2 separate regions of the Homo sapiens genome follow, and region 2 is linked to region 1. Evidence: fine-mapped expression QTL. A gene starts in region 1. The other region holds a variant in brackets. All regions are shown on one strand. Distances are between the middles of the regions. Region 1 holds the start of VIP (vasoactive intestinal peptide). Region 2 overlaps MYCT1 (MYC target 1).

Region 1 (16,169 bases):
AGACTATGTACTAGTAAAGGGGATGTTAGTATAAGATATCAGTTCAAAGAGAACTGGCATATAATATTTGCTCCCTTTTTTCTTCCTATAGCCTGCTGCCTGGAATGCATATGTGATGGCTGGAATGCTAGCTCTAATTTTGGATCATGAGGAAAAGTGCCACACCATTGGAGATGAGGGATGAGCTGGAAGGGGTGTAAGTTATTGAGGGTTTTGCTGAGCAGAACCATTATAATAACCCTGACATCTTACTTCTTGACTTACGTGAGAAAGAAATTTCTCTTTTATTTTAAGCCATCATTATTTTAGAACTTGCACACAATCAAATACCACAAAAGCTATCTAGTGCCTAGAACTTTAGAGCTAAAATGAGTTACTGCTGAATCATATAAAATAATCAAACAAAAAAATTATCTGCAATCATAAGCAAGGTCTTTATTTTCTCTCTTTGATTTCTTAAAATTATTTTGGAAAAATAGTTGTGTCTCCAAATGTACTTTCACAGAAGGAAGCTCATATGACCAAAGCAATATTCTGAGTCATTATGGCAAAAATATTTATTATTGAACAACTGAGTGTTTCATTCACTTCACATTTTACACATACTTAACACAAGCAGAAAGGGAAGTTTCAGTGTCAGAAGCAGGGGTCGTTCTCCTTAACTGAAAGACTATCAGGAGAGAGCCTTTGGTGATTAGCAATCCAAATTTGAGATTTTTTAAAACACCATTAAAAATAAAGGTTGCCTATAAAATATGGAAACACATAATATTTTCTGAAAATCTTTTTGGAAGAATGTCTTTTTATCTTCATTGTTACTATCTTAGACATTTTGAGGTTTATTTAACACAGCATTCCATCTGCTTAACATTCAAATTTAGACACACTGATTATCTGTTCTACTCTCCTGAATAGTTAAGTACACTCTATAAATAAACACATCAATTTTGCTCTATTACTACTCTTCCAAAAACGTCTCATATAATTGGAATTAACCTAGCATTTACTTATCATTAAATATATTTTTTTGTTAGAAAGGATATACAGCATATGAAATTGCAGGCTTTTTATGAGTTAAAGACAAAATTTAGAACTCTCAAATACTATTTACAATGTAAACTTCACAGTTATTACATTAGCTAGAATACATCACAACATTCACAACACAATATTTTTATTTGGTTTGGATATTGAAGTTGTTTTCTTGAATTACTTATGTAGAACTCAAAATTTAATTATGTTGCGTATCATTTTCCTTCAAGAATTCTGAAAAAGAAAAAATTGTTGCTTTAGGCATAAAATATATTTTATTTCTAGCATCTTAGTTTCATTCACTGATTTACTTATCTGATAAACACTTATTTCTCTTTGTCCCTTGTTAACAGCCTGTGGCAGGGGATCATGTCCTGGGACATACCAAGAGAGCAGCTTCTAGAGGACTGATTATCAGAGAGGAACTGGAATGTGAAAAGACGTCTAACTAACCATTATTAATGATTCACTTGTAATTTTCACTAATGGATGACCCACATGATTTCCTCTTCAAAGAATTTGTCCAAAGCCACCCATTTAAAAAAGAAAAGAATGGAGGATGGAATCTCATAAGTGATCTTACCATTTACAAAGCACAGTGTGATTAATCAATTCTCCTTTATATTTTAGTGCCTACCGTGTTTCTTAATTTGATGGAGAAGCCTTCTTATAAACACTCTTAGAAAAGCTATATGTAATTAACTTTCTTCTTTGAGCAAAGGGACTTGTTTCTCTGAGATGTCTATAAAAGATAAAGAGTTGATGTGGGCCACACTCCTGCCTCTGCTTTCTCTTAGAGGTCTAAGGGTAATTAGTGGACAAAAGCAGTCAATTAAGCAGGTATCTTCCCAGACACCATGTCCACTCTTGATGACTGTTGAAAACCTTAGATAACCCCATCAGGAACTGAGGTAAGGCCATGAATTGCCTTTAGTTTGAGCATGGGTGAATTTAATCTCCTTAACCTAGTTAGGGATTGGAATCTGGCTCACCTTCAGGTTTTATGAATAAAGTTTTATTGGAACACAGTCACTCCTATTCGTTTTACATCTAACTGTGGCTGCTTTTGTGCTACCATAGCAGAGTTAAGTCACTCTAACAGAAAATAGATGGCTCACAAAGCCAAACATATTTTACTCCATAGCCCTTTAAAATCTGCTAACCTTTGATATGGTGACAGCATGAAATTTCTTTAAGCACTTGCCCAGTATTATAGATTTTTTATGAGCGAATGTGAATATTAATGTAATGTAACTCAGGAAAGAAATATGTCTTGAACCCACATTTATATAAAATCAATTTTGATAGCAAGCTTATTACTTCACAAAGAAAAAAAGTCTATCCATGTTTTTTCTGCTCAAAAAAAATGTTGGCAGAGAATGCTATTAGAGTCATATAGGTAAAACAAACTTACAGGTAAAACAAGCTAAATTTAACTTTTGCTCTATGAAGTTTGCCATGTTTCAAGGAATATAGTTAGACCCAGAATGCCTTGATATTTTCATAGTAATGGGCCATGCTCTAATTTGGTGCTATTTCCCTATACTTAATTGAGGAGCTAACAGTCAATTGTGAGACTAAACCTTCAATTAATAAAAGCAGCATGGGTCGATCCTCAAAAGGAAAGCCCATTTTTCTTGTCAGTGTGAGTCAGCCTCCTCTGTTTTTTTATCTTGATACAAAGGTAGAAATAACCCCAAGTAAGCCAGGAACACTATTCAGATCTCAAAACGTTTGCTTATTGTGAGTGCTCTCTTTTACAAGATCAAAAAAATTTCATGAATCATTCTAAGCTGTTTACTGGGTTGGGGTCCACTGTTGTAGAAGTGTCTGTCTTGGATGAGGTCTCATGATGAGAAACTATTTAACCCTAAGATGTTTCTTACTAAGTGACTCTTAGCTACTTATATAATCAGAGACAGCCATAAGAATACAGAAGGAATGCACGAATATACCCACCACTGGGAAGTTGTCATCAGCTTTGCTCCAAAGGTCTTTTTCATCATTTTTCTAACTCTTCTGGAAAGTCGGGAGATTCTCCCTCACTGCTGCAGACCAGAAAAACATTGTACATATTAAGGCTCTCAGATGAGAAAGGGTCTAAAGAAACTATTATGACATAATGAATGTGCTGTTCTCTGTGCTCTGAAAGTGTATGGGGAGGCTAAACAATTATCTTTGAGGTTTGTTAGTACCTATGAATTATTCATCAATCTTAGAGTTTCTAAAATTATTCTCACAGAATTATCATCTAGTGGGCAAAGAGGTCATCTTGTCTGATCACACCCAAACAGAATTATCCTTAATACTCATCACTTAAACAAAAACAATTGGAATAAAAAGACAGAACACTACACTGTTTATGTATTGTGTCCAATATTTACACACCATAGAGAGATATAGATTTTACAGAATCTAAATATACAAAATACCTAATGGTTTAATTTGATTAAATAACAGTAGTGAATATGCACACGAAGTGAGTTCCATGTGTTACCAAATTGCAATTGACTATGCTTTACATGTTTTAAAAATCATCACTTTTGATGAAACTTGCTCTTAGATTCAGACTAGATGTCTGTATAGTCATCATTTTTAACACTGGCAGCATAGTAAAGTCAACTGGGGAACTCTTAAAAGAAATGTATGTCTAGGGCCACACCACCGAAGACACCGATTTCCTGGCAATTGGTTTGGGAGAAGGCCCAGACATCTGTATTTTTAAAGTTCTGCGGGGTAGTCTAATGTCAGCCAAGGTTGAAAATCACTGCTTCACGTAGTATAGCTAGATAAGTGAGATAGAGAGGTCTCCATGTGCAGCTTCTATTTTGAAAGTCAGTCATGATTCCTCATTTTAGCAAGTTCTCTTTTTCTTTACCTCCTCTTTCCATTCAGAATTGAGTTCAAATATTTCTTTACAGCCATTTGTTTTCTAAGGCGGGTATAGTTGTCAGTGAAGACTGCATCTGAGTGACGTTTGACTGGTACAGGGTCTTCTGAGATGTTACTGCTAAGGAACATGAGGAAAAGGAAATCAAAGAGTTTTCACAAGAAATGATAAATACACACATGTTCCAGGTTTCTTGGAGCCACATAAAAAGCAATTCCCACCCAACTAATTTTCTATCATAAAAAGACTAAAAGAAAAATACAACTAAACCTAAGGATGAAGGAAAGCAAGGAATCATCTGCCATATTTTGGCATGGCCTGGGACTGTTTTATGACACATTCTGTACAGCTGAGCAAATAATTCATCCAAAAATAAAAATTTGGGAATAGCTGAAGTTGTGCTCTGCCATTGGGAGAAATTTTTTTTTTTTTTAAAAAAAACATAATTACTTCTTTAGAAGCTATGCTACCCTGAGCAACGTCATCTAAATATTTGACTGTTGGCCATTTGGAATTCTCCATTTAATTTGAGCAGGAAGTAAAAAGAATATTCTGTTTGACCTTAAAATTTACCTCAGTCTGTACTATCTCTTTTTGATTGTTTTACTGAGTCTTGTTCAATTTGATTGCAGATTGCTAAATGATTGCTACTTGAGAAAAATGTGTGTCTGGAGTCAATGAATATGATATTATGAAAAAGTCTTAGTCCATGGGCTTGATAGATGTTATTGAAGAATACAAGTTATTTCATTTAACTAAATTAAACATTATCAACGAGTTTTCAATTTCAAACAAAGTAAATAACTTGTTAAGAGTGAAAATACAATATTCAGATTGAATAATGATAACATATTTTATAAAAATAATAAATTCTCTTTACCTAACACGTTTTCCCATAAGAGACTCAAGGTACTTTTTGGCAGAAAGTTGACCCAAGAGTTTACTGAAGTCACTGGTGAAAACTCCATCAGCATGCCTGGCATTTCTAAAACAAGGAAGAAAAAAATAGCTATTATTTTGTAAATGGCTTTCTAGAATATTATTATGGCTTATTAAATAACAAAAAAATTATGGGCTTATTATGAAAGCTTCTCATTAAAACTAAAGTTCAAAAGGAGATTTCTTAACACCCTAACAAAAGAGATCTTCTAGTCACTTATATCAAGATATACCCTATATTTCTAGCCCAAGACACTGAAAAATTAAAGAAACAGGCATTTCTAGGAGCACATTTCAATATTCCTCCATGGTTGAATCTTTATAACTATTTCTTTCTAAGAAATATTGGTGTAAAAATATGATCTATTTAAATTAGCTGCTATTTGTACATGGTGCTTTGTGTCTGCCCCACTGAATAAAGACATTCACAATGGGAAAATATTCTGATTTTGGAAAGTTCATAAACCCCAGTACACCTTTTTTTTTCTTTTTCCAAAATATTTGGAAACAAAATCTCTTAAGATAGAGAAGGCATTAAGGCCTATCATCCCACCTTTTCTCTTTCAAATGAAGCACCTTTTATACTTTGTCTGTACCAAGTACTATAGAGCTACTTGGTCTGTACTTGAAATGATGCTCTAGACAAACAGCTCTATGAATGAACAGCTCTATCAGGTATCTTTTCTTTATATAGAGACAAAACTCCTTGGCAACTCTTCCATCATTGGAATGCTAAATGCTGTACTTTTATCAGAATTGGTACAATCTGTGATGTTGGAATTATGTGCAACAGAATGGAAGTGAATGGTGTGTTCATCCTGGCTTGTTACAACCTTTCAGTATGAAAATTATGTACAGCTGTAAGATCTGCAGTAAATCAGGATGAATGAAGCCATGACACATAGAAACCTCTAGTGTTTTGCTATCGGAATAGCTTCATGGTGAGATAAAATAAGCACGTTTATAGTTCTTAAACACATTTTCTAAAATAAAACTCATTGGATAGTTTTATAAAAATAAACTCACCTGGATACATCATAATAGGGTGTGTCATTTTCAGCTAATGCATTTTGCAACATGTCAATGTCTTCTTTTAATGAAACTTGATCAGGTTCATTTGCTCCCTCAAAGGGTATTCTGTCACCCAACCTGATGGGGAAAGTTACACGAGAATAATACATTCTTTTTTCAGAAGACAGTGTGTATGGTTCCGCAACCATTTAAAATAAGATACTTAGACTCTTGGGAAGTATTACCCAGTCATAATATGAGAATAGCATAATTTGACTTAATGGCTCATATAGTTAATGAGAGTATAAATAGGAAATTCCTATTATCCTATAAAGTAGATGCCATATGACTTTTATAAGCTGAATATACAAAACACAAGAGCTACTTAATTCAATCTTATCAGAGCATTAAGCAAACTATACTTCTTTGGTGTAATTTACTATGCCAAGAATATCTTCACTTTGCAAAGTCAAATTTCGTATGTAGAAATATTTTATGCAAAATAGAAACTTGCAAAAAACTAATATTGAATGAGAACTGATAACAATTTATGGATTTGGTGATGTTCAGTATTACCTGTTCCAAACATCTCTGAAGAACAGAGTATTAACTGCTTCTCTCTCTCTCGACCCCCAAGCTTTGCTTCAAATATTTACTTTGGCATTATATATTTCTCTGTATTGACAGAGTTCAAAGAATGTCTCCATAGATGGATAGCTCATCTATGAAGATGAATTTGAATTCAATAAGTTTTATGGGGCCTTCTTTTTTCTAATCTTATGTATTAACACAACTTTAATAAGGGATGTACAATGTTACACTGAAAGACTAAGAATAGTCAAATGCATATATGGAATATGACTATATTTATGGATGCATGCATATTTCAATCACCGGCAACTCTTATAATTTTGTGTGTGCAGATTTTCACTGTTAGGGCAAACATCCAAGGAGCGTGTCAGCTCCTGGACACTTGTGTATCTTTCAGTGATTTGGGAGTTGGGAGTCACTAGCAACTAGTCCTCTGTGGGTCTGAAGCTTAGCAATCAACACAAATGTCCACATTCTTGTGATTGTTCATCTGCTGTGGTAGAACTATTCAGATAGAACCATTTTGTTTAGTTATCAAAGCAACGCAGGAGCTGTATTTAAACAGATTTCACAGAGAACACTAATAGCTAAGAGGTTATTCTCTCTGTTGAGCATAAGTCTACCTTAAGCAAAAAATCAAGAATGACCTAATAAGCAAAGAAGGAAACCAACCCAATTATTATTTTTCCTTTGGAGATACAGTGGTGCCCGTAAACTGAAAGGAAAATTCAAGCTAATATAGTTTTCATTTATTGTTTACTTCTTTAGCATACATTAATAAAGTTTTAAATAAGAGTTGTGTTATACTTTATGGATTTGGAATATATAATATAACATATAGAACAATAAAACTAAGGATTTATGGTCCAAACAAAGTATATCAAAATTTTCCTATTGGGGGAGTGTATCTCAATAGATCAATTACCCCATATTTAATATTGGCAAATTGACTCTGCCTAGATAGATTTCTGTGCAACATGATTTTATACATGTTTCACTAATCAACTACTAGTCTTATGATTATTTACTGATTAATCTTGAAAATAAACTCAAATGTGGTTGGCAACTAAACAGCTTTTTTCCACCAGAAATTGAACTGACTTGAGATAACAATGGATAAAAGCTTATTATTTATCTAAAGATGGTTTTGAATAAAAAGAAAGTGAAAGCCTCCTTTCACCATGTTTGGGAATGTGATCCACTCAGCCCATAAAACTAATAACTGACAGTGTCTCTCATGCCCTGAAAGTGAATTCCAGGACTCAGAATGACCTGATGTTGACAAACACCTCTCACTCAACACATCAAGGAAAAATTTAAATACATAATACATAATTTATACTATTTAGTTGTCCAACAAAATGTATAGGAAATTCCCATTTAGATGAGGAAGGAATGTTCAGATGTTTGAATTGAAAGGGAACTTACCTGAGAGCAGAAGGTGCCCTGTAAAGAGGCCATGCCGAAGTCTGTGAGAAGAGCACACTGAGAAGAGTCAGGAGCACAAGGAGCTGGGCCTTATTTCTGGTGTCCATTTCTGTGCCTCTAAAGAGAGAGAATCACCTCAGTTCTTCCAGCCAAAGATGTCACCAGCAAGGTAATTCTGATTGTCTAGCAGTAATTTTCAATGGCTCTTGCAGAGTTTGTAAAGAGTAATTTTCATCTTGTAGAAAGAGTTAAATTGCAAGATGATACATTCAAAAATCAGTATTTCTCTCAGTGACAGGTGCTTGAATAAAAATTAGAATCCTTTTCACCTGCTGTCTGGGCACATGGTTGGCCCCAGTATCTATTGAATGCCATACTTCTATAGTGCTGGAAATAACCCTGGGGACAATCTTTTCATAACAGGGATGTACCACTCAAGCTTAGTGTATTTTTTGACGAAGGAAACAGCTTCAAGACATTGATTTTCTTCTGCTTTAAAATTTCAGTATCTGACTAATATAAGACTAGAGTATCATCTATTTAATAATTATTCTGCTCGTGTGTGTGCAAATGTATAAATATAATGTGTATATATACATATAATTTTAAAAAAGATTTTGTATATACATTACTTTTTCCTCTTTCAATTGTAGATATTACGGAAACTTATTTCCTTACACCTGGATTTGAACTTCTTAACTCAGTAGTGAATATTAATACTCAAAATATTACTGAATCATATGTTGTCATTGAAATAAATTTTTCCATAAGAGGAAAATATATATTAAAAGCAAAGCTTGCATTTCTTGCATTTAATCAACTTACACATTTCATTTCTAGTTTCTAGATTAAAAGCCTAGGAGTAAGGTCTGTTTCTCTTGCTGCCTATAAAAATTATGGAATTTAAACTTAAGGAAAAAATAAATGCATCTTAGATTCACTTAACCAACATACGAAATAGGAAAAAAAAAGCACTTTAAAAATAAGTTGAAAATTTCAAAAGCAAATGTTCCCACTGAAATTTTCAGTCAAAAATCTACATACAAGTAAACTTTACTTGAATGAATTATTTGTAAAAATCAGTATTCAGTAAAAGAGCAAGCAGGGTAAAGCATCTTACAAACAAAAGAATTCAGAAAATCTATCCATATGAGAGAAATTGAAGTATTTCTATCCTTACCAGGTGACTTGAGAAACTTGTTTTTTGCTGTTGCAAAAGCAAAGCACTATCAAATTCTTTTCAAGAGAGAAAAATTCATTATTTTGTGAGAAAAGTTCCAGAGGCAGGAGGGAAAAAGAAGAGGAAAGGTAAAGTTTTCACTTACCTCGCCCAGTCGTGCTCCCCCGGAGCTGACTGTTCTGGTTTGTTTTGGAGCTGTCTTAGGTGCTGAAGTCCTGGGAGTAAGAGAAAGGCTCCACCAGTTCTCTGCCCTTAGCAATGGCTAAGGGTTGGCTGTTACTGCCTGCTGGTGCTTCTCACTCTACCCTGACCAGCATTTCAAAGCCCATCATTTTATAGGGCTTATACTTAGGACTGAGCAATCACAAAGTGCTCTGAAAGACGTCACAGTATGACGGCCATGGGATGAATAGGGCTTGAAGTTCTTACTTAATTGTCATTATGCCTAATTTATATAAGTTTATAGTGAGCAACTTCAAAATGTAAGATAAGAGGAAATTTACTTTTCTTTAAACAAACAAAGTAGCAAGCTCAATGTGAAATGTTTTAACCTTTAATTAATTGTAAAATAAGAAAATGATTGTAGTGTTATAGCCAGGGCCATTGGGATTCCTTCAGAAAATAAAGACTTCATGTGTAGAAACAAATGCATAAAGCAACAAACACTTATGTTCATTACGCTTATAAAAGTATAATTATACTTTATTACAAAGTATCAATTCTCTTAATATTTTTAATTTTTATGCTATTCATATAGTTCCAGATTTAATCTTTCTTGAAATCTATCCTAACTTTAAAAGCTCTAGAGATAATTTTCACCTTCCTATTATTACATTTCGTCTTTGTTGAAACTAATTCCAAGATAAGTGTTTCAGAAAGTCTCTAAGATAGTAAGATATGCACGCTGTTGTACAAAGCAGTACAAGTAGTGCTATTTCATATTTGTATAAAATGGCACAATTCCCAATGCACTTTTACATACACTGTGTCAAATGATCCAAAAAATAAATTGTTGTCAGGCTATATACCTCAAGGAATTTAATTGTCTTTTCTTTTTAAAGATTTTCCTCATCACTTTTATAAGTCTTTGCATAATGTAGAATTAGTTTTCTACCCTCATCCCCAACACACACACATACTCAAACCAGTTTTGAACATTTCTGATTCAATCACTTGACAGGTGGCTTCAAATAGTTGAAAAGCATTTATATAGTACTTTGATAAATACTTCACTTCTATTTGTGGATTTGTAACTAAAGGTAGTCTAGCACACATTCAATCAGAGTTTAAGGTAAAAATGCAGCCACATGAAAAATTTCCTAAACAACAGAGGAAAATGCCATTTTTCCTTTTATTTTAAAGGCTTTCTGCCATGTGTATTATTTTTACATTTTGTTTCTAAGTTTCATAAGACAGAATGGCTTTACAGTCCTCTTTCTTCTACTTTAAGATTGTAGTATCTATTTCCTTCGTTCAAAGTCAGACTGATCCAGTAAAAGAATATCCTGCTATGCTTAATCATATTTTCTAATCCAGTTACCAGAAAAATTAAATGAATTAAGTTTCAAAATGTCTGGAAATTTGTTTCCCAGTTGACAGCTCTGACTTAAGCCAGAGTTCCTGTGGCTTAATTCCAGGAAATCTTTTTTACCTGATTATTACAAACTAGAGGTTGAAACAGTTCTCATATGGAATTTTTTTATCCTTAGCTCTTCATCACCCAATTCTTAGTGAACCAATTTTATTTAAGAGCAGAAACAGCAAAGCAACTTAATTGAGGGTCACAGACAAATGACTGCTGAATGATAAGAAGAAAAATTTTAAACATAAAAGATGTAAAGCTGATCATTATTTGGCCTAGGCAAGCACTTAGCATTTACAAAGAGTAACTATAGTAGCTTTTCCCAATACAAAAGACAATTGCTTCTATTATAATAATAATAAGATAAAATAAAAAGAAATAATTCAATTTTATTACCTCTGAATAAAAGTAAACTCAACCAAACAACTGCATTTTCTCTTATGAATTTAAACTAGAAAGCAAAACAATTTGAAAATGGAATCATAGCACCATCTGCAGGTTCAAAGTTTTAATTCACAGACTTTATAGAATTGTGTTTATTTCTTCTTTTCTTTCAAGGAAATGAATTGTAAACCAGAGGTCCTGTAGCCAGCTTAACTTTTGGATGCTTCCAGAAAAAATAAACATAAGAAAAAGTACTGCAGTCAAATTTATCCTGAATTCTCGGTTACCATAAAACTTAGTAAATAAGTACAAAGATACAAACTTGAATTTACTGTTTAAATGTGTCTTTTCCGTACTTTGACATATTCTTCCATAATTTGCCTACATTTCTGGCAAAGTTTATTTTTGCCTTAGGCCTTCTCAGTAAAGTGATGTTTGTAATAAGGGGAACTATAATTCATTCACATGGATAGAAAAATCTTCAAGATCCTTCTTTTACAAATAAGTAAACTGATCTCCAGAAAGTTTCAGTAATTTTTGCCACTCAGGTGGTTAATAACAAATACGAGATTGGAAGATAGACCGTCTGATTTTGAGTCAGCATTCTTTCAATTTAGAATTGGTAATATTCTGTAATTGTTGCTATCACCTTTTTGATGCTAGCAGGTCAGATATGGAAATTGACAGCTCATAAAAATATTGGCATCTCCTCTCCCCTTTTTTCACCAACAGAACCAAGAGCAGGGAAATAAAACTGGCATTCTAAATTCAAACATACTGGATGCAAGGAAATTAGATGGAAGGGATTTTCAAGCTCAGGATATTAGCAGAAATCCAAATTTGCCTTTTTTTCTTTAGTGCAAAATACTAATAGAGGGTCCATATTCTTATTATGGATTAAATGCCTAAGCTTGTGCTCTTCTGCCTCTTTTTATGGTGGTTTTACCTGCCTAATTCACCCTATTTCACCTCCAGTCCTGAGACTTAGCCAATGTCTGCGTTGGTAATCCTGAGTGGGTAAGTCTAGATCAGAGGTCTGGAAACTACAGGCTGTGAGCTAAATAGACTGACCCCTCTGGATTTTGTTTGTTTGTTTCTTCATTCATTTGTTTTTGTTTGTTTACATCTCTCAAGCTAAGAATGATGTTTATATTTTTAAATGGTTAAAAAAATTAAATGAACTTTTTGTGACACATGACAATTATACGTTATTATTTTATTTTATTTTGAGACGGAGTCTCATGCACTCTATCATCCAGGCTGGAGTACAGTGGTGCAATCTTGGTGCACTGCAACCTCTGCTTCCCAGATTCAAGCGATTCTCGTGCCTCAGCCCCCAGAGTAGCTGGGACCACTGGTGCCCACCATGTTGGTCGGGCTTTGGTCTGGAACTCCTGAGCTCAAGTGATCCGCCTGCCTCGGACTCCCAAAGTGCTGTGATTACAGGTGTGAGCCACCTCCCTGGCCAAAACTTATATATAATTTAAACGTCAGTGTCCATAAATAAAGTTTTGTTGGAACATAAAAGCATTTCATCATATATGTATTCTCTATAGCTGCTTTTGTGCTACAACGGCAAAGTTGGATAGTTGCAACAAACTGCACAGCTCTCAAAGGTTAAAATAATTACTATTTGATCTTTCACAAAAAAAGTTTTTCAATCCCCTAGATCCTCCTGTTTGGCAGATATTTAAGATGATATGTTTGCTTTAATAGTCTTAAATCCAATATCTTTCAATAACTTGTATTAGGAAATATATATTTGCGTATATATATTTTATATACCTAATGTATAATGTATTATGTACTGTATATGTTATATATACATAAATACATATATTCTATACAATATATTATACATGTATATATGTATAACATACAGAATATATACATACATTTAATATACATGTATACTTTTACTAAAAGTGTACATTTGCATAAGATGTATATACATACGTATATTTGTATAGCATATTAAAAGTTTATATATTTAAAGCATCTATATTAGAGTATATATAAACACTTTCAATTCTTTTAAATTAGAAAATTTGAACTTATTTTCAGGATTTTGTATTCTTGTCATATTAGTGATTTGATGAAAATAATATTACAATAAAGGTAAATTTTCCCTTTAAAGTTACCTATTAGAATTCATTTCGGAATCTAAAAATATATCAGCAAATATAAAGCAAAACAAATAATGATCTAAATGATATGATCGAGGACAACTTCTCCCTTAACTCCAAAACCTCGTTATCTGTCCCACTTACTGATGCTGAGTTTAGAGAAAATTATTCCTTTGTCTCAGAATTTTTTTGCTTCAAATCAAATTACATGTAGAAAGAACAATGCAAGTGCTGCAAGTCATTCGAACTTTATTAGGGTTGTATGTATCAGACGATTTCCTGAAAATAGATTTCAAAAAGAAGGGTATAGAGAAATCACAGGAACACACAATACTAAGATGTGGAAGTTGAAAAATAGAGTATTAAAGATTTTAAAACCAATTTTACCTACTTCACAATGTCATCTCTTATGTATATGTTCCCCCACCACATAGAGTAGTCCTCCCTTATCTGCAGTTTCTCTTTCCATGATTTCAGTTACCTGTGGTCAACAGCAGTCTGAAAACATTAATGGAAAATTCCAGAAATAAACCATTTATTTGCTTTAAACTGTGTGCCATTCCAAATAGCATGATGAAATCTTCTGCCATCCTGCCCAGTCCAGCCTGGGATGTGAATCATCCCTTTGTCCAGCATATCTGTGCTGTCTATGCTACCTCCCAGGTAGTCACTTAGCCAATTTGTTGACAGATGGAAAATACATGGTTTATGTAGGGTTAGGTGCTGTCAGTGGTTTCAGGCGTCTGCCGGGGTGTTGGGAGATGACTGTACACATTCCATGCAACCAGCCTTCAACTCAATCACCCTCTGTGTTTACTATATGGATCAAATGAAAAACAACCATGTCTAATTTCTGGCTTTTAACCTTAAGAAAGCTGCAGTCTAGATGTTAGAATGAAGATTTGGCAAGAATATTTTCTGAGTGAGTTCTCATGGCCCCTCTACCACTACATCTATTCTCCACAGGCCAGGGAAGAGCCTCTGAGATGGGGAAGCTGGTGTGAGTTTATGGTAGAGTGGAAGGGATGGATGACAGAACCCTGTGTTATCAAGTGTAGGGGCTGAACAATAGAGGCTAACTTGGCTTCATTTCACATCTGGTTGACATAAGACAAAGCAAATCATGGAGAAACACTCTGCATAATGGTACGGGAGACAAACCTGGATGATAGTTGCACACCCTGCTTAGGAAAACCCAAAATACCATCCAAGGAACAAAGAGTGGAAAGGGCCTAGCAACGGACAGGTTTTAAACAACCTACCAAGAGCCAGCGTGGGTGTCCACACCCAGGGACCAGATGTCACTGCATATTTCAGTCGATGACAGCCAGCCCTAGACCATCTCCAAAGTGCCCAGAGGAAGCCTCCCAGATTTCACATTGCTCTGTCAGAAGCTTAGATGCTACTCTGAGGGAAAAGAGGAGACAAATCCTCTTTTCAAATCTGAAAGACAACATTTGAAATGACAGAAAATCTGAAATGATAGAATTTTAAATCTGAAAAGTATTGCCTTTACCTAGAAATGATCAAGTTAAACTTTTTTTCCCCTAGACTTGGAGTCTGTCTCTGTAACCCAGGCTGGATGGCAGTGGCACAACTGTAGCTCAAGGCAGCCTCCAACTCCTGAGCTCAAGTGATCCTCCTGCTTCAGCCTCCCATGCCGCCAAGATTACAGGTGTGAGCCACTGCACCTGGCAGAGGTAAACATTTTTAAAAACAAATTTTTGTGTTCATTTTACTCTGTGGCCTGTGAAAATATATACTCACCATTACTTTACAATGGCCTTGAATTGTGTATAGTCATGGTTTGCCTGGGAAGAGCCTGCCAGGGACCCTATATCCTACTTAGTGTTAAAACCAGTTTCAAAGAGGCCCTGGGACCGAAGCTTGGTAACTTTGAGATTTGTCCTAGAATGGAGCACGGGGGCAGGATGGAGGCCTGCCCTGACCCTGGAGGCCACATGTCTCCCTCCCTCTCTTTGTTCTTCAGTTGTTCCAGCTGGTCTCCAACTTTGCCACCTGGTTCCTCACCTTAGGCTTCTTCAACCCATTCCTTGGCCCTAAAGCTAAACCTGTTTCTTTCAGTTTGCCTCAGCCCTAGAGGACCTCCCAGGAGCCCTGAGTTTCGGCTTACTCTTGGGAGAGATCTGACGCCACAGGCTCTCCCCCCAGCTCCCGCCTCTGCTGGGAACCCTCTCTGCTCTTCTTCACTGTTTCTATTTCCTTGAAGGCTGACCTTTATGGACTACATCGTCCACACCCTGGTCCTCTGGCTGCTGGCTGGGCTCAGCAAAAGAGACGTGCTGGTTGGAAATGAAAGGACCAAAGAGGAGGGAAAGAGAGTTCTGGGTATTTATTCCCCTAGGCCATGGCTTGGAAGAGACTACATTCCTCCCGCAAGATTCAGTTTCTGCAGGGTGGCCTCTCTCCTGCAGCCCTAGAGGGGCCAACGGCTCCCTGCTGAGGCTCATTCATGGATTACTCGCTACCTCACTACTTCTACCTCTTTATTAAACTCTCCTCAATTCTACCTCTTTATTAAACTCTCCTCAATTCACCTTTGGAAAGAGCCTTGAGTCCTTCCTGGACCCTTCCTAGTGTACTCCCATTCCCACACCCAATATTTAATTTTAGGATTGGATAGCTTCAGAAGGCCTGCATGTTTTAAAATTTTTGGTATTTTTCATTTGAGTTGGAAGAACTCTTAAAATAATCAATGTGGGAACTTGGAGGAAGGGCACTCTAGCCCCGAGCCGGTCTGTCCAATTGGTGAACAATTGATTTCTGAAGACTGCTGCTGAAACACAAATACATTAGAAGTTCATTCAGGCCCTTGATGCTCCTCGAGTCCCCTCCAGGAAAAGAAGCTGGATCCATTGCTGACACAATTGCAGAGAAAAGGTCAATGTGCTGCCAGAAGCCAGACACCAAATCCTCATGGGGTCTTTGTGAGGAGGTGTAGAGTAGCCTTGGGAAGGAGACTTGAGGCAAACTGGGCCCTGCGTC
Region 2 (16,169 bases), 37 kb after region 1:
AAGTGCTTTCCAAGTTGCTAGATGTAAGTTTAAGAAAGAAAATTTTTCCCTTAAGAAAAACGTGAGCTTGGTTTTAAACTTGAGGCTTGTTTTTAGGTCAAATGAATTGGATTTTTTCCTGTTGCTTTTCTAACAATGTAACGACAACGGTGAAGAAAAGGTAAATCATCATGTTAGTAAATCCAAGGATTTTGCCTCCAGGAAGTAGATAACTATTCTTGGGAAAAACACATAAAGAGTTTGTCCAGAAAAAATTAGTGTCAAAAATGAAACATCCAATGACACCAAAAGAGTTCAGTTTCCTGTGCTTGAGTCCCACACTTCTTATAATGATCAAATCAAGGAACTTTAGAATGTCCTATGTTCTGTCATTTTGTGCCCACATATTCCATTAAAAATCCAAGATTGGCCAGGCTAATTCCAGCACTTTGGGAGGCCGAGGCAGGAGGATCATCTGAGTTTAGGAGTTTGAGACCAGCCTTGGTAACATAGTGACACTTCATCTCTACTAAAATTAAAAAAAAATTCAACCCGGTGTGGTAGTGCACCCCTGTAGTCCCAGCTACTTGGGGCACTAAGATGGGAGGATTACTTGAGCCTGGGAGATAGAGGCTGCAGTGAGTCCTGATCATGCTACTGCAACTCCCGCCTGGGCGACGGATCAAGACCCTGTCTCAAAAGAAAAAAAAAGAAAAATCTAAGATTGTAAAATGTCAATATGATTCACTTGTCATTCTAAAGAAAGTAAAATCCAAATCCCTTAGAAGATTTTTCTTTAAAGTGACACAGTGATTTTTTTTCTCTTTTTAGTCACATTGGAAGTAAATGAGGATTGTAATCCACAAATATCTGAAGTTTTAATTTTAATTAAAATATATATAATGCATCTTAGCTGATTCTTACATTAGAATCACTATTTTTAATAAGCCTCACATTGAATACAAAATACATAAATATAAAACGCTTGGGGGAAAATATTACATTTTTTGAAACAAAAGGGAAAACGTGTTTGAAGAAAATGTGTTTTACATTGTAATGTCCAACTTGCACAACCATGTTTCAACTTGGAACTCATGAGTTATTTGGGCCATGCCCTCAAAATTCTGTTTAGCCTATTTTTGATTTCCTTTCAATAAAAGACAAGACAAGAAAGAAACAAAAACCAAAAGCCACCCTACTCAGGAATCTGGGAATGCCTTGATGATGGACTCATAGGCAGGTGGGGGCGGTGTTGAAAGGCCCACTCGAAGACTGTTACTGGACCAGTAGTCAGGACGGCTCAGACTGTGGGAAGTGCTGATGGTGGGAGAGATATTGGAAGAAGGGAGAGTCACCAGCTGACTCTCAGTTTCCACAGGAAGTGGTGGACATTGCAGAAAGGGATGGAAAGTAGAAGCTCTGAAACTTGATTTTCTTGGAAAGGAATTTGCTTGTTCCAGGGAAGCTTGTCGCTGGAAGGTGAGACTGGCCAGGCTGAGGTTGCTTCGACGTTCACAGCCACTGTGGCGGTAAAATCCAGTTCTGTTGAGGCCGTGGGTGTAAGAAGACCTAGATCTCCTGCTTGAACTCCACTGTGAGATGGGAGCACTGGCTCTTCTTCTTCGAGACAGACAAATGAACACAGCCCAAATAAATCCTCCAAGTACCAGCCCGATTGCCATGGATACAGTGAAGGACATGATAAGGTCCTCTGAAACAAAGAAAACAAATTGCTAAATCAATTTTTAAATAGGTTTTCAACTAAAAACAAGGGTCAGCATATATACTGTAATTCAAAGAATACATGATTAATTTAAACATACTTTGAATTAGGGAAATAGAAGACAGTGTTAGGTGGATATGAACAAATGGAAGCTGATAATGCTTCCATTTATTCAAGCAGAAAGATACAAAATAACACTTTCAGCTGCGGCATTCCAGGTCACTTAACCTGTTTTATCATCTTTAAGAAATAAAAGATAAAAGTAGTCTTACTTGATGTCATTAATTTATGGCATTTAGTTCATCCATTTTTTACAGAGCTGCAAATGTAGCCCAAAGTTGATTTCCTTTTGAGTTATAGTAGTAACTAATGTGCCAGATTGATAAAGAATTTTGTCATCACTTTGATGTTGCCTTTTCCTCTGTCTGCTTTCATCAATCACATTGATTTCTGCCACCTGCAGTCTTCATGATGCCTCACTTCCTTTGCTCTTTCTGAGACAGGAAGTGCTGGGATAGAACCATCTGGCCAGCTGACTGATTTATGTCATATTTCCTGAACTCCCAGACAGTCACCTATATCTCTGACTCTTTGATGACTTGACCTGTGCAGACTACTGGGCTCTTTCTTGTTTCCCAGGTTCCAGCTCATGCTTCTGTTACGCCCTTGTGATGATGAAATTCCTGTCACCTGAACCTCCATAGAGCCTCGGCTACGTACCAGTATTCTGTAATTTGTAGAACTTGTAATTTGTTCAGATTTCCCTTTCTGGGGAGAAAAATGCCTTTTCCTAATGGAAATGCTACCTTACTGCCTCTTGTAAACTAAATACATATTCTTGAATGAAACTAGGTAACTGAGTCTCCCCTCACCACACCACTTTGCAAAGAAAAATTCTGGGTATTAGAAGACTCCTCCAGCCTGTTGGTCCCCCACATTTCCCCTCCATGATCAAACCCCTTGTCCCCAACGTTTCCCCTCCATGATCTAACCCACAAGTCATGCTCGTTTCTCACTGTACCAAAGCCTGTCATTCTCTCTAAAACTCTGAGCTTTTCCACATATTTGTCCTTTTATCTGAATTCAATTTTTTAAGCTTCTGTCTGGAAAACTCATTCTTCAAGCTCTACCTTCAAGTATCACATCTTCAGTAAAGACTCCTACATTTCCTAGACAAAAATAAGTTACTGCTAAGTAGAAAGGTAAGCTATCATATCTAATTGCTTATGTAGGTAGTCTGTATTGAGAGAGCCATAGCCTGAAAATTAGCTGATGGGTGTTGTGAGACTGGGGAAGAGGAGGAGAAAATAGCCACAAACGTTTTGCTGTTCCTCCCATCAAGAGATAGAGTCTATTTCCCCACCCCTTGAATCTGGGCAGGCTTCATGACTTGCTTTGACGGTAGGATGCAATGGAATTGAAGCTATACAAGTTCAAGCCTAAGCTACAAGAGGCTCAGCATCCACCCTTCCTTCTCTTGGGACCCCTGCCATTGTCAGCATATAAATAAGGCCAGACTAGCCTGCCAGATGATGAGAGACACATGGCCCAGGAACCCCTACTGCCCTAGCCAAGAGCCTGCTAACCTGGACATATGAATGGTGTCATCCTAGATAATTCAGATGCTAGTCAACTCACCAAATGACTGTGACACATGAGCAAAGACCAGCAGAAAATCCACCAAGCTGATTTCATCTCAAATTACCAATCCACAGGATTGTGAGCTAAGCAAATTATTATTAGTTTAAGCTACTATGTTTGGGGGTGGATTGTTACATGGCAAAAGCTCTCTGATAAAGGGTTCCAAACTCAGCTCTGTTCCTAATATGTTTTGTGATTTTTAGGGAATTTGTTTAGACCCACTGATTTCATTATACATATATATAAAGGAGTTAGATTTTATGATTGCCAAGGTTCTTTTTAGCATATTGTAATCTATAATATGTAGACTACCTAGAATGCAGAAATAACAAAACAAACTAATGTTAATAACTACAAAGGAATAATCACTGCTGTCTAATTTTAGGATATAGTTCAGTGTCCTTCCACCATATATTGTCACATTTATCTCCTGTGGAAAAGCTACATTTATTGTGTCCTACTTTCACAATTATCTGTACAAATAATTATATCAACATTCTCTAAAGCAATGGCTTTATGCAAAGTTCCCAGGCACATTTTTTAGTGTATTATATCACTTAATCCTCAAACATCCCAATAAAGGAAATGCTAGCGTTATTCCCATTTAATAGTTGTGGCTACTGAGAGGTAAGTAACAAGCCCATAGTCCCACACCTGGTGAAGGTCAAGTAAGGATCTGAGACCAAAGCATCTTAATTCATAGTTAATTGCTTATTTATTTTCTAAGTGTAAGGTAAGAAAATATTAATCTAAAATGAAAATGAGCAATATAAATTGCATAAAAATTGGTCGATTCAATACCAGAGTATCTTGCAGCCTGTTATGAACAGAAATACTTGAGAGAATGGTGGTTAAATAATATTGTGTGTTCTACAGATATATTTCCATGAATCAATAGCCTTTAGTGGAGACTTTTAAATATCAACAAGCTCAGCTATGGACTCATAGAAATGGAGTTTCAGCTAAAACAAGCTTTTGAAAATGTGTTGGACATAAATTCCTCATTTTATAGATATTGAAACAGAAGCTAAGGTTCATGTGGTAGAATTAACACTTGATTTATTGTAATAATTGATTGGCAAGTATCGGTGGTTAGGGAACTATTAGTTACACTAGTGTATGATACAAATGAGAAGACAAATACTCAAATTTACAAAGTATATGTCCTTCCTATGTGTAAATGTACCTAACCACTACTAGAGTCTGACTGAAGACTCTAAATATCTCAGTATATAAGCAGGCATAATAGATAAAATGTAAAAAGAGATGTTTCCTTGATTTCAGCAAAATGGAGTTAAAACCAGAATCTGAAAGGAGAAAATATATTCAGTTACTCAATGAAAGTATTTAAAGATTACAAGAGTCCTTGTACATGGTCTCTGTGTACGCCCTTTGAGCCTCTCATCTTCTGACAAATCAGATATTCCCAATATAAATGTTATTTATAGTGGAATAATAGCAAACTTTAGATTCGAGAAAAAAATAGAAACTATTTAAATACACAATCAATGAAAAATAATTTCTTGTCTATTATTGTGATTGAGGCCAGGTGCAGTGGCTCATGCCTATAATCCCAGCACTTTGCGAGGCCGAGGTGAGAGGGTCGCTTGAGCCCAGACCAGCCTGGGCAACATAATGGGACCTGTCTCTACAAAAAGTAAAAATAAATTAATTAAATAAAATACAGCAATTGAGTATATTAGCAAAAACAACAAAAATACATGGAGTGAGAAATATATTTATATTTCAGATGACTGTTTTATTTCCAAAATACATTATTGTTCTGATGTAAGAAAACTAGGATAATATCCAAACTCTAATGGGCAAGTTATTATAGAATATATTGGACCATCACAATTTTCTTAAATGACAAGTTTCAGTTTGGGAACTAAAAAGATTATTTTTGTGGCACTAAAACTATAACAATATTTCCATGAGAGGAATTTGACAACAAACCTATTTAAAATGATCATTCTCTGTGGCTTGGTAATACTTTGATTTGATATGGTAAACCTATTGTCTATGCCCAAAATTTGGGGAAATGACTTAAAATGTCATCAAATATTGGGTTATATAGATATCCAAAAAGGATTAAATAATGAATTTAAAATGTACGTGAGAATCATAATAATAATATATACACACAATAATAGGCTATTTAAATTTTGAATGAATATAAAGTAGGATAAGATGGGGGTGCAACGGAAATTATACAAATTACAAAAAAATTGCTTTTGATATGGATTTGTTTAATTTTTGCTCAGTAGAGTACACGCATCATGAAAACGACTTCTTAATCCATAAAGTCAGTAAAATACACACTTTAGAAATTGCATTAGTCTGTTTTCATGCTGCTGATAAAGACATACCTGAGACTGGGCAATTTACAAAAGAAAGAGGTTTAATTGGACTTACATTTCCACATGGCTGGGGAGGCCTCACAATCCTGGTGGAAGACAAGCAGGAGCAAGCCACATCTTGCATGGATGGCAGCAGACGAAGAGAGCTTGTGCAGGAAAACTCCCCCTCATAATAACCATCAGATCTCGTGAGACTTACTCAGTATCACAAGAACAGCACAGGAAATTCCTGCCCCCATGATTCAATTACCTTCCACCGGGTCCCTCCCACAACATGTGGGAATTCAAAATGAGATTTGGGTGGGGACACAGCCAAACCATATCAGAAATCATTGCACTAATTCTTATACCTTGCAGAATATTAAAACACCTACAAATAATACTGCTGACAGAAGAATTTCTAAGACTTCCTGAGGTATATGGTAAAATACTTATCTATCTTCTTAAGCTCCCTTAAGTCCAAACAGCAAAGGCAAATGTAGAAATGCAGAAAGGCAATAAGAAAGAGATGCTGAGTCAAATAACAGGGGTGGTTTTCAT[A/G]CACATTTTTTTTTCATTTAATTATAGTTGATGATTTTTCTGACCTGCCCAAACTAGAATTTAGAAACTGTGTGATGAAAGCAGCATCTACTGGTCATACAGCTTTAAATTTTCATATATGTAATTCCATTCTGGCAGACTTTTGACAATGTATTTTGGGAGCCTTTTTTAAAACCTAGTGTAGAAGAAAATGTAACTGAAAAAAAAGACATTGGCAAAGATATTACTTTTTAAAAAATGATATGCCTTCTTACTTCTCAACAATCTAAGGAGAAGAAAAATGAGCCATAATCTTTCTTCTTAATAATTGCAATATAATGCAACTTATGAGACCAAATGATTACTTTTAAAAATGTTAACTTTCCTTTTGAAAGCAGAAGGAAAAAACTCTAACATTGGTCAGCTATGCCATATAAATTAAATATATGTCATCCTAATTTGTAATACGTACCTACAAAACTAGCAAGTAGATGGCACATAACAAGCCCTCAACGAACACTGGCTCTTACTGCTAATAGTTGTGTAATTTCCTCAAGTCATTTGACCCTTCTTGGCCTGATAATAACAGCCACGTTCGTGTCTTCCAATTTTAATATTGTAATATTGAATATGATTTTTAGTAAATATAATCAATACCTCAAATTCCATCCACTGGTATTAAAATTTAGTAGAGGTCACCATCTAGTGGCCTTGAGTTGAAGCATTCCAACTCTGAAAGTGATTTATCAGTGATGGCAGAATGTAACATTGTTTAAAACATTCAAAAACCCTTTGCAGTTGTTAAGAATCATAAGTTCAATGTTCACCAAAGCAGGCCATGAAGTCCTTGGTATCATAGAGTGTATAGGAGAATGGTTCAGGCAATAGAACTACTTTTGACGAAAAGGGCTTTTAGGGAGAATAATATTTAGGGCATAGAAATTTGATTGATTATAATAATTTAAACAGCCGAGGAGTATTTTCCATTATATCTCATGTGCCAGAACATCTTATTGGGTCTGTTTTCACAAACAAAAAGAAATCCAGAATTCAACTTCTCACTACCCACTCTGCGACTTCACTGATCCAAGTGGCCACATTCCCACATCTGTGACCTGGAATATGGTCTTCCTGCTTCTGTCCTTGCCATATCCCTCACACCCCAACAATGTGCTCAATGCAGTAGTCAGAGAGAACATTATAAAATGTAAGTCAAATCATATCAATCTTCTGTTCTAAATCCTCCACTTCTCCCAGAGTAAAAACAAATGCCTAAGAATATCCTAAAAGTCCCTACTTGATAGGCTCCCAATTATCTGAGCCCATCTCCTCTACTCTTCCTTTGGGTCACTGAGCTCTGTCTGCACTTCCCCCCTCACCATTCCTTAAGTACATCAGATGGGCTGGCTCCTGACTTAGGGCCCATCCCTGGTTGTAATCTATTCCTAAAATTATTTCCTCAGCTATCTGTATGGTTAATTTCAGGTCTTTTGCTTATATGTAAGTTTCTCATTGAGGTCTACCCTGGCTGCTCCACCTAAAATGACACCCTGTCCCACCTCTGAAGCCTAAATGGAATTCTTGTTTTTCTTTTTTCCTTCCTGGTTAATGGAAACTACATTCATTAATTTATACTCTAAGAAAATGTGAATGAGACGCATAACCATTATGAGCTGAAAATGTCATTATGTTTGAAAGATAGGAGGATAACATATATCTGGAAGGTTTAAAAAAGCTTCATGGAAAAAATAAATTGTAGATGCCTTTTTGTGAATGGTAGTGGTCAAATAAACAAAAGGCTTGGAGATTTGAAAGTAGTTTTGATCAAAATTATAAAGCACAAGCCATATTCTGAATATAATTAGTTAACAGTATTGCTAGAGGTGAGGGCAAATTCAAAAGTATCAAGGTAGCACACCCCTTTCTGTATATGATAGACTAACATGTATCAAACCAATGAGAGCAAGCGTACAATGGAGAATAAAATATTTTCTTAAATTTGTTTGAAGCCATCAGAGACTTATCAAAACTATTAAATCAAAGGAGCAAATTCCAGGAGAAAAGAAAATCTTTCATCACAATAATCTGTAAAAAGAAACAAAAATATCTGAGTAGAATGCTGTGCACTATAAGTAAGCTTAGAAAACATAAGTTGGTGTTCAGGGGCTGCCAAGGAAGTTGGACCCTAGGAAACATCCCAGAATCTGGAATTAGGCCCCCTAGGATCTACTCCCTAAGCTTAATGGTAAACAGGAGAAAGACCAGACCTCACAAAGATAAAAATATAGATCAATCCCAAGTTGGACTGAGGTGATCTTCCCCTAACTGCCAGAAGGAAAGTTTTATACATATATATGAAATAGAAAGTTATATACTTAAATAAATTTATATATACCTAATAATGTTATATATATATGTGTTATAAATAATAAATTACAAGTCATCCTAAGAGGCAAGACAAAGTAAACAAAAACTAAAAGAACAAATAGAAAATGGAAAAATATCTGTAAGTTATGAAAATATTTGAATTATCAGACAAAAATATTAAAATAACTTGATTAATGTGTTTAAAAAATTAACAAGTTAAAAATTTTCAGCAGAGATTGAGGATCTATAAAGAAAATTAAATAAAATACCTAATGAAAATTATAAAATATTTTAACTGAATTCTGATAAAATTGTGAAATATCGAAACATGTGAGATGTGCCTAAAGCCACATTCATAAGAACATTTATAGCTTTATAGGTATACATTTTAAAATAAGAAAGCCTACAAAAACAATTATTTCAGTTTCCATATTAAGAAGCTAGGAAAAGATCACTAGCTGAAACATAAGTAAAGTAGCATACAGTAAATAAGAGAAAGCAGAACTTAATGAAACAGGGGCAAAAAAAAAAAAAAAAGAAAAAGAAAAAATAGAGGAAATTATCAAAGCCAGATATGAAAAAAATCTAATAAAAATGAATAAAATACTAATTGGAACGACAAGGATGGAAAGAGGAGAGAAAGAGAAAGAGGGAAAAAGAGTGGGCAGGAGCAAGAGAAAGAGACAGAGAGAAAGAGAAAATCACCAATATCAAGAGTAAGAAATGTGACATTAGAACAGATACAGGCAATAAAAACATCAAGCTAGGATTCCAAATCAGCTTTTATGAACTGACCCTTTCAAGTAATAATGACTATGAACACTGAAAACAATATAAAAAAAAATTCTACCTAAAGGCCTTAAGAATGACCAAATGCTTGTAGCTACTGGAGAGGAGTTGAGACCTGGAAGAAAAGAACAGCAAGTACTAGTCAAGCTCCAGTTTTCAAACCTTTTAACCTGAGGGAAGCTTCCAGTCTGGGACAGGTAAAGCTACAGTCGAAAACCTGCACTGTTTCTGATCTTGAGAAACAAAGGACAGAGATTGTGGAAACAAGAGCTGCTGAGAATGTGAGAGGGAAATCCTGGAGAAGAGAAAGCCAGAGAGGAGAATCCCCAAATTTTATTTATAAACATTTCACATATCTTTGGTTGACTCCTGAATCACACATACGTGGGATGTATTCCAAACAGCACTAGAGAAAAAAAAATAAACTAAAGTGAGATTTAAGCTGCTGCCCAAGGGACAGGCTTTATAGGTTTCTGTAGTTGTAGTTCCACAGAGTTATTTGCCTGTGAAAATAAACTAGGGGGAAAACATACATCATAACACTCTTCAGGGTAATATAGCAGAATCCATTCAAAATGTTCAAGATACAATATGAAATTACTGGGCACATGAAGAAACAGGAAAATGTGATCCATTCTTAAGAGAAAAGACAGTCAACAAAAACAAACTTTAAGATGATCCAGACATAATTAGCAGACAAAAATTTTAAAGCAACTCATATGTCCATATTCAATGATTTCAAGTAAAACACTCACAATGAATAAAATGATAGGAAATTTCAGCAAAGAAATAGAAACTATAAGAAATAACAAAATGGATATTCTAAAACTAAAAAAATGAGAACTAAAAAATTTATACCATGAGCTTAACAGTGAAATTAAAATGAGAGAGAAAAGAATCGGCCAACTTAAAGGTGTATTAATAGAACTTATCCAATTTGAAAAATGGAGAAAAATATTGGGGGGAAAAAGCAAGCCTCTAGGCCTTGTGGAACTATATAAAAATATTTAACAAATGTGCAATTATAATCCCCCAAACAGAGGAAAGGGTGGATGGAGCTAAAAACATTTTGAATAAATGAGGCTGAAATTTTTCAAAATTAGTGAAACAAATTAATCTACAAATCAAGAGTCTCAGTAACATCAAGCAGAATATATATAAAGAACTATGCACGTCATAGTCAAACAGCTGAAGATCAAAGGTTAACAAAAAAAACTTGAACACAGCCAAATTACAAATAATAATAACATTACATTCATAAAAGACAATTATTTAAATACTCACTTTTAATAAGACACGGTGATATTTTAAAGTGATTTTAAAAAAGCTGTCAACTCAGAATTTTATATCCAGCAAAAGTATCCCTTAAGTATAGTAGTGAAATAAATACTCTTTCAGGGGGAGGAGCCAAGATGGCCGAATAGGAACAGCTCCGGTCTACAGCTCCCAGGGTGAGCGACGCAGAAGACGGGTGATTTCTGCATTTCCATCTGAGGTACCGGGTTCATCTCACTAGGGAGTGCCAGACAGTGGGCGCAGGCCAGTGTGTGTGCGCACCGTGCGCGAGCCGAAGCAGGGCGAGGCATTGCCTCACCTGGGAAGCGCAAGGGGTCAGGGAGTTCCCAGGAATTGAACAAGGATACCCAGGAATTGAACTCAGCTCTGCACCAAGCAGACCTAATAGACATCTACAGAACTCTCCACCCCAAATCAACAGAATATACATTTTTTTCAGCACCACACCACACCTATTCCAAAATTGACCACATAGTTGGAAGTAAAGCTCTCCTCAGCAAATGTAAAAGAACAGAAATTATAACAAACTATCTCTCAGACCACAGTGCAATCAAACTAGAACTCAGGATTAAGAATCTCACTCAAAGCCGCTCAACTACATGGAAACTGAACAACCTGCTCCTGAATGACTACTGGGTACATAACGAAATGAAGGCAGAAATAAAGATGTTCTTTGAAACCAACGAGAACAAAGACACCACATACCAGAATCTCTGGGACGCATTCAAAGCAGTGTGTAGAGGGAAATTTATAGCACTAAATGCCTACAAGAGAAAGCAGGAAAGATCCAAAATTGACACCCTAACATCACAATTAAAAGAACTAGAAAAGCAAGAGCAAACACATTCAAAAGCTAGCAGAAGGCAAGAAATAACTAAAATCAGAGCAGAACTGAAGGAAATAGAGACACAAAAAACCCTTCAAAAAATCAATGAATCCAGGAGCTGGTTTTTTGAAAGGATCAACAAAATTGATAGACCGCTAGCAAGACTAATAAAGAAAAAAAGAGAGAAGAATCAAATAGACACAATAAAAAATGATAAAGGGGATATCACCACCGATCCCACAGAAATACAAACTACCATCAGAGAATACTACAAACACCTCTACGCAAATAAACTAGAAAATCTAGAAGAAATGGATACATTCCTCGACACATACACTCTCCCAAGACTAAACCAGGAAGAAGTTGAATCTCTGAATAGACCAATAACAGGCTCTGAAATTGTGGCAATAATCAATAGTTTACCAACCAAAAAGAGTCCAGGACCAGATGGATTCACAGCCGAATTCTACCAGAGGTACAAGGAGGAACTGGTACCATTCCTTCTGAAACTATTCCAATCAATAGAAAAAGAGGGAATCCTCCCTAACTCATTTTATGAGGCCAGCATCATTCTGATACCAAAGCCAGGCAGAGACACAACCAAAAAAGAGAATTTTAGACCAATATCCTTGATGAACATTGATGCAAAAATCCTCAATAAAATACTGGCAAACCGAATCCAGCAGCACATCAAAAAGCTTATCCACCATGATCAAGTGGGCTTCATCCCTGGGATGCAAGGCTGGTTCAATATACGCAAATCAATAAATGTAATCCAGCATATAAACAGAGCCAAAGACAAAAACCACATGATTATCTCAATAGATGCAGAAAAAGCCTTTGACAAAATTCAACAACCCTTCATGCTAAAAACTCTCAATAAATTAGGTATTGATGGGACGTATTTCAAAATAATAAGAGCTATCTATGACAAACCCACAGCCAATATCATACTGAATGGGCAAAAACTGGAAGCATTCCCTTTGAAAACTGGCACAAGACAGGGATGCCCTCTCTCACCACTCCTATTCAACATAGTGTTGGAAGTTCTGGCCAGGGCAATCAGGCAGGAGAAGGAAATAAAGGGTATTCAATTAGGAAAAGAGGAAGTCAAATTGTCCCTGTTTGCAGACGACATGATTGTTTATCTAGAAAACCCCATCGTCTCAGCCCAAAATCTCCTTAAGCTGATAAGCAACTTCAGCAAAGTCTCAGGATACAAAATCAATGTACAAAAATCACAAGCATTCTTATACACCAACAACAGACAAACAGAGAGCCAAATCACGGGTGAACTCCCATTCACAATTGCTTCAAAGAGAATAAAATACCTAGGAATCCAACTTACAAGGGATGTGAAGGACCTCTTCAAGGAGAACTACAAACCACTGCTCAAGGAAATAAAAGAGGAGACAAACAAATGGAAGAACATTCCATGCTCATGGGTAGGAAGAATCAATATCGTGAAAATGGCCATACTGCCCAAGGTAATTTACAGATTCAATGCCATCCCCATCAAGCTACCAATGACTTTCTTCACAGAATTGGAAAAAACTACTTTAAAGTTCATATGGAACCAAAAAAGAGCCCGCATTGCCAAGTCAATCCTAAGCCAAAAGAACAAAGCTGGAGGCATCACACTACCTGACTTCAAACTATACTACAAGGTTACAGTAACCAAAACAGCATGGTACTGGTACCAAAACAGAGATATAGATCAATGGAACAGAACAGAGCCCTCAGAAATAATGCCGCATATCTACAACTATCTGATCTTTGACAAACCTGAGAAAAACAAGCAATGGGGAAAGGATTCCCTATTTAATAAATGGTGCTGGGAAAACTGGCTAGCCATATGTAGAAAGCTGAAACTGGATCCCTTCCTTACACCTTATACAAAAATCAATTCAAGATGGATTAAAGATTTAAACGTTAAACCTAAAACCATAAAAACCCTAGAAGAAAACCTAGGCATTACCATTCAGGACATAGGCGTGGGCAAGGACTTCATGTCCAAAACACCAAAAGCAATGGCAACAAAAGACAAAATTGACAAATGGGATCTAATTAAACTAAAGAGCTTCTGCACAGCAAAAGAAACTACCATCAGAGTGAACAGGCAACCTACAACATGGGAGAAAATTTTCGCAACCTACTCATCTGACAAAGTGCTAATATCCAGAATCTACAATGAACTCAAACAAATTTACAAGAAAAAAACAAACAACCCCATCAAAAAGTGGGCGAAGGACATGAACAGACACTTCTCAAAAGAAGACATTTATGCAGCCAAAAAACACATGAAGAAATGCTCATCATCACTGGCCATCAGAGAAATGCAAATCAAAACCACTATGAGATATCATCTCACACCAGTTAGAATGGCAATCATTAAAAAGTCAGGAAACAACAGGTGCTGGAGAGGATGCGGAGAAATAGGAACACTTTTACACTGTTGGTGGGACTGTAAACTAGTTCAACCATTGTGGAAGTCAGTGTGGCGATTCCTCAGGGATCTAGAACTAGAAATACCATTTGACCCAGCCATCCCGTTACTGGGTATATACCCAAATGAGTATAAATCATGCTGCTATAAAGACACATGCACACGTATGTTTATTGCGGCACTATTCACAATAGCAAAGACTTGGAACCAACCCAAATGTCCAACAATGGTAGACTGGATTAAGAAAATGTGGCACATATACACCATGGAATACTATGCAGCCATAAAAAATGATGAGTTCATATCCTTTGTAGGGACATGGATGAAATTGGAAACCATCATTCTCAGTAAACTATCGCAAGAACAAAAAACCAAACACCGCATATTCTCACTCATAGGTGGGAATTGAACAATGAGATCACATGGACACAGGAAGGGGAATATCACACTCTGGGGACTGTGGTGGGGTCGGGGGAGGGGGGAGGGATAGCATTGGGAGATATACCTAATGCTAGATGACACATTAGTGGGTGCAGCGCACCAGCATGGCACATGTATACATATGTAACTAACCTGCACAATGTGCACATGTACCCTAAAACTTAGAGTATAATAAAAAAAAAAATAAAAAAATAAATACTCTTTCAGGTGAAACAGAATTCAAATTAATCACCAGCACACCTACACTAAAACATGTGCTGAAGAAAATCCTTAGTCTGGGGATAATGAAAACTGGGATCTTTAAGAAGAAATTGAGACCATCAGAAATAGTATCAGAGTAAATATAGAAGACTCTTTTCCATCAATTTCTTTAAAATATATTTTTCTAGCTAGAGCAAAAATTAAAATATTTTCATATGAAATGTATAGTTTATATAGATTTAATATGTAATAATTATAATACAAAGAATTGGGACAGGATATAAATAAATCTATTAGCTTGATTGATTGATTTAGTTTTTAAGAGATTTTAGAGACAGGGACTTACTATATCATCCAGGCTGGTCTCAAAGTTTTGGGCTCAAATGACCCTCCCACCTCAGTCTCCAAGTAACTGAGACTACAGGCACACACCAATGCACTCAGCTATTAGCTTGTTTTTTATATTGAAAATCTTATGTATTCTAAAATATAACTACAAATTATATTAAGCAAGACTGCAGAATGTAAGACTTATATATAAAAATACGTTTATATACTAGCAGCAAACAACTGGAAAGTATAATTACACCATTACAATAGCATCATTAAGCATAACATACCTAGGCATCTTTTTTTACAAAATGTATGCAAGATGTCTGCACCACAAATTTTGAAATACTACTGAAATAAATTAAAGGTCTAAAAAGTGGAGAGATATACTATATTTGTGAATTACAAGCCTCAATATTATTAAGATGCCAACTGCCCTTAAATTTATTTATATAAATAAATTTATATAACTAAATCAACTAAAAGTCCAATAAACAGGCTGTTTGTATTATTTTACAAATGACCCTAAGTTGTATATGATGACAATACAAAGGAACAATAAAAGCAAAGCTGGAAGCATCACACCACTTGATTTTAAAATATACTACAAAGCTATAATAGTCAAAACAGCAAGGTACTGGCATTTACATAGACATTTAGATTAATGAAACATAATAGGGAGGAAGCCCAGTAATAAATCCATGCATTTGTGACAATTGGTATTTGACAACAGTATCAAAAATGCACAATGGGGAAATTATTGCCTCTTCAATAAGAGGTAATGGGAAAACTGCATATCCACATGCAGAAGAATAAAACTGGACCCTTATCTCATACTATATAGAAAAATCAAGTCAAACTGGATTAAAGATACAAACCTAAGACCAGAAACCCAAAAAACTACTAGAGGACAACATAGGGAAAAAGCTTGATATTGATCTGGGCAATTATATTTTTGCATATGACAGCACAGGAAAAAAGCAAAAATAGACAAGTAGAATTGTGTCAAACTACAAAGCTTCTGCACAGTAAAGGAAATAATCAACAGAGAGAAGAGACGCCTACAGAATGAGAGAAAATATTTGCAAACCGTATATCTGATGAGAAGTTAACATCTAAAGTATATAAGAAGCTCACACAACACAAAAGCAAGAAAACAAATAATCTGTTTACAAAATGAGCAAAGGACCTGAATAGACATCTCTCAAAAGAAGCCCCACAAATGACCAATAGGTAGATGAAAAAATGCTC

The links. PIP is the estimated chance that this variant, and not a neighbour inherited with it, causes the effect.
Region 2: its variant is the best candidate, but not a certain one, in a credible set for the expression of VIP in spleen (GTEx, PIP 0.53).

What each region holds. Positions count from the first base shown.
Region 1 is chr6:152,744,007-152,760,175 of GRCh38, reverse strand. It overlaps VIP (vasoactive intestinal peptide), which reads right to left and starts at 9,379. Exons shown (of 7, transcript NM_003381.4): 1 at 9,217-9,379; 2 at 7,892-8,008; 3 at 5,888-6,010; 4 at 4,803-4,907; 5 at 3,911-4,042; 6 at 2,992-3,080; 7 at 416-1,266. The coding sequence starts at 7,998. The coding sequence ends at 3,035. LINC02840 (long intergenic non-protein coding RNA 2840) reads left to right here. Exons shown (of 5, transcript NR_183508.1): 4 at 92-196; 5 at 1,386-5,300. It also overlaps a transcript of MYCT1 not described here.
Region 2 is chr6:152,707,263-152,723,431 of GRCh38, reverse strand. It overlaps MYCT1 (MYC target 1), which reads right to left. Exons shown (of 2, transcript NM_025107.3): 2 at 1-1,690. The coding sequence ends at 1,179. Among named protein-coding and RNA genes, the nearest start is that of MYCT1, 17 kb to the right of the region's middle. RefSeq lists an enhancer at 1,044-2,243. The variant A/G (reference allele first, on the strand shown) is at 6,244.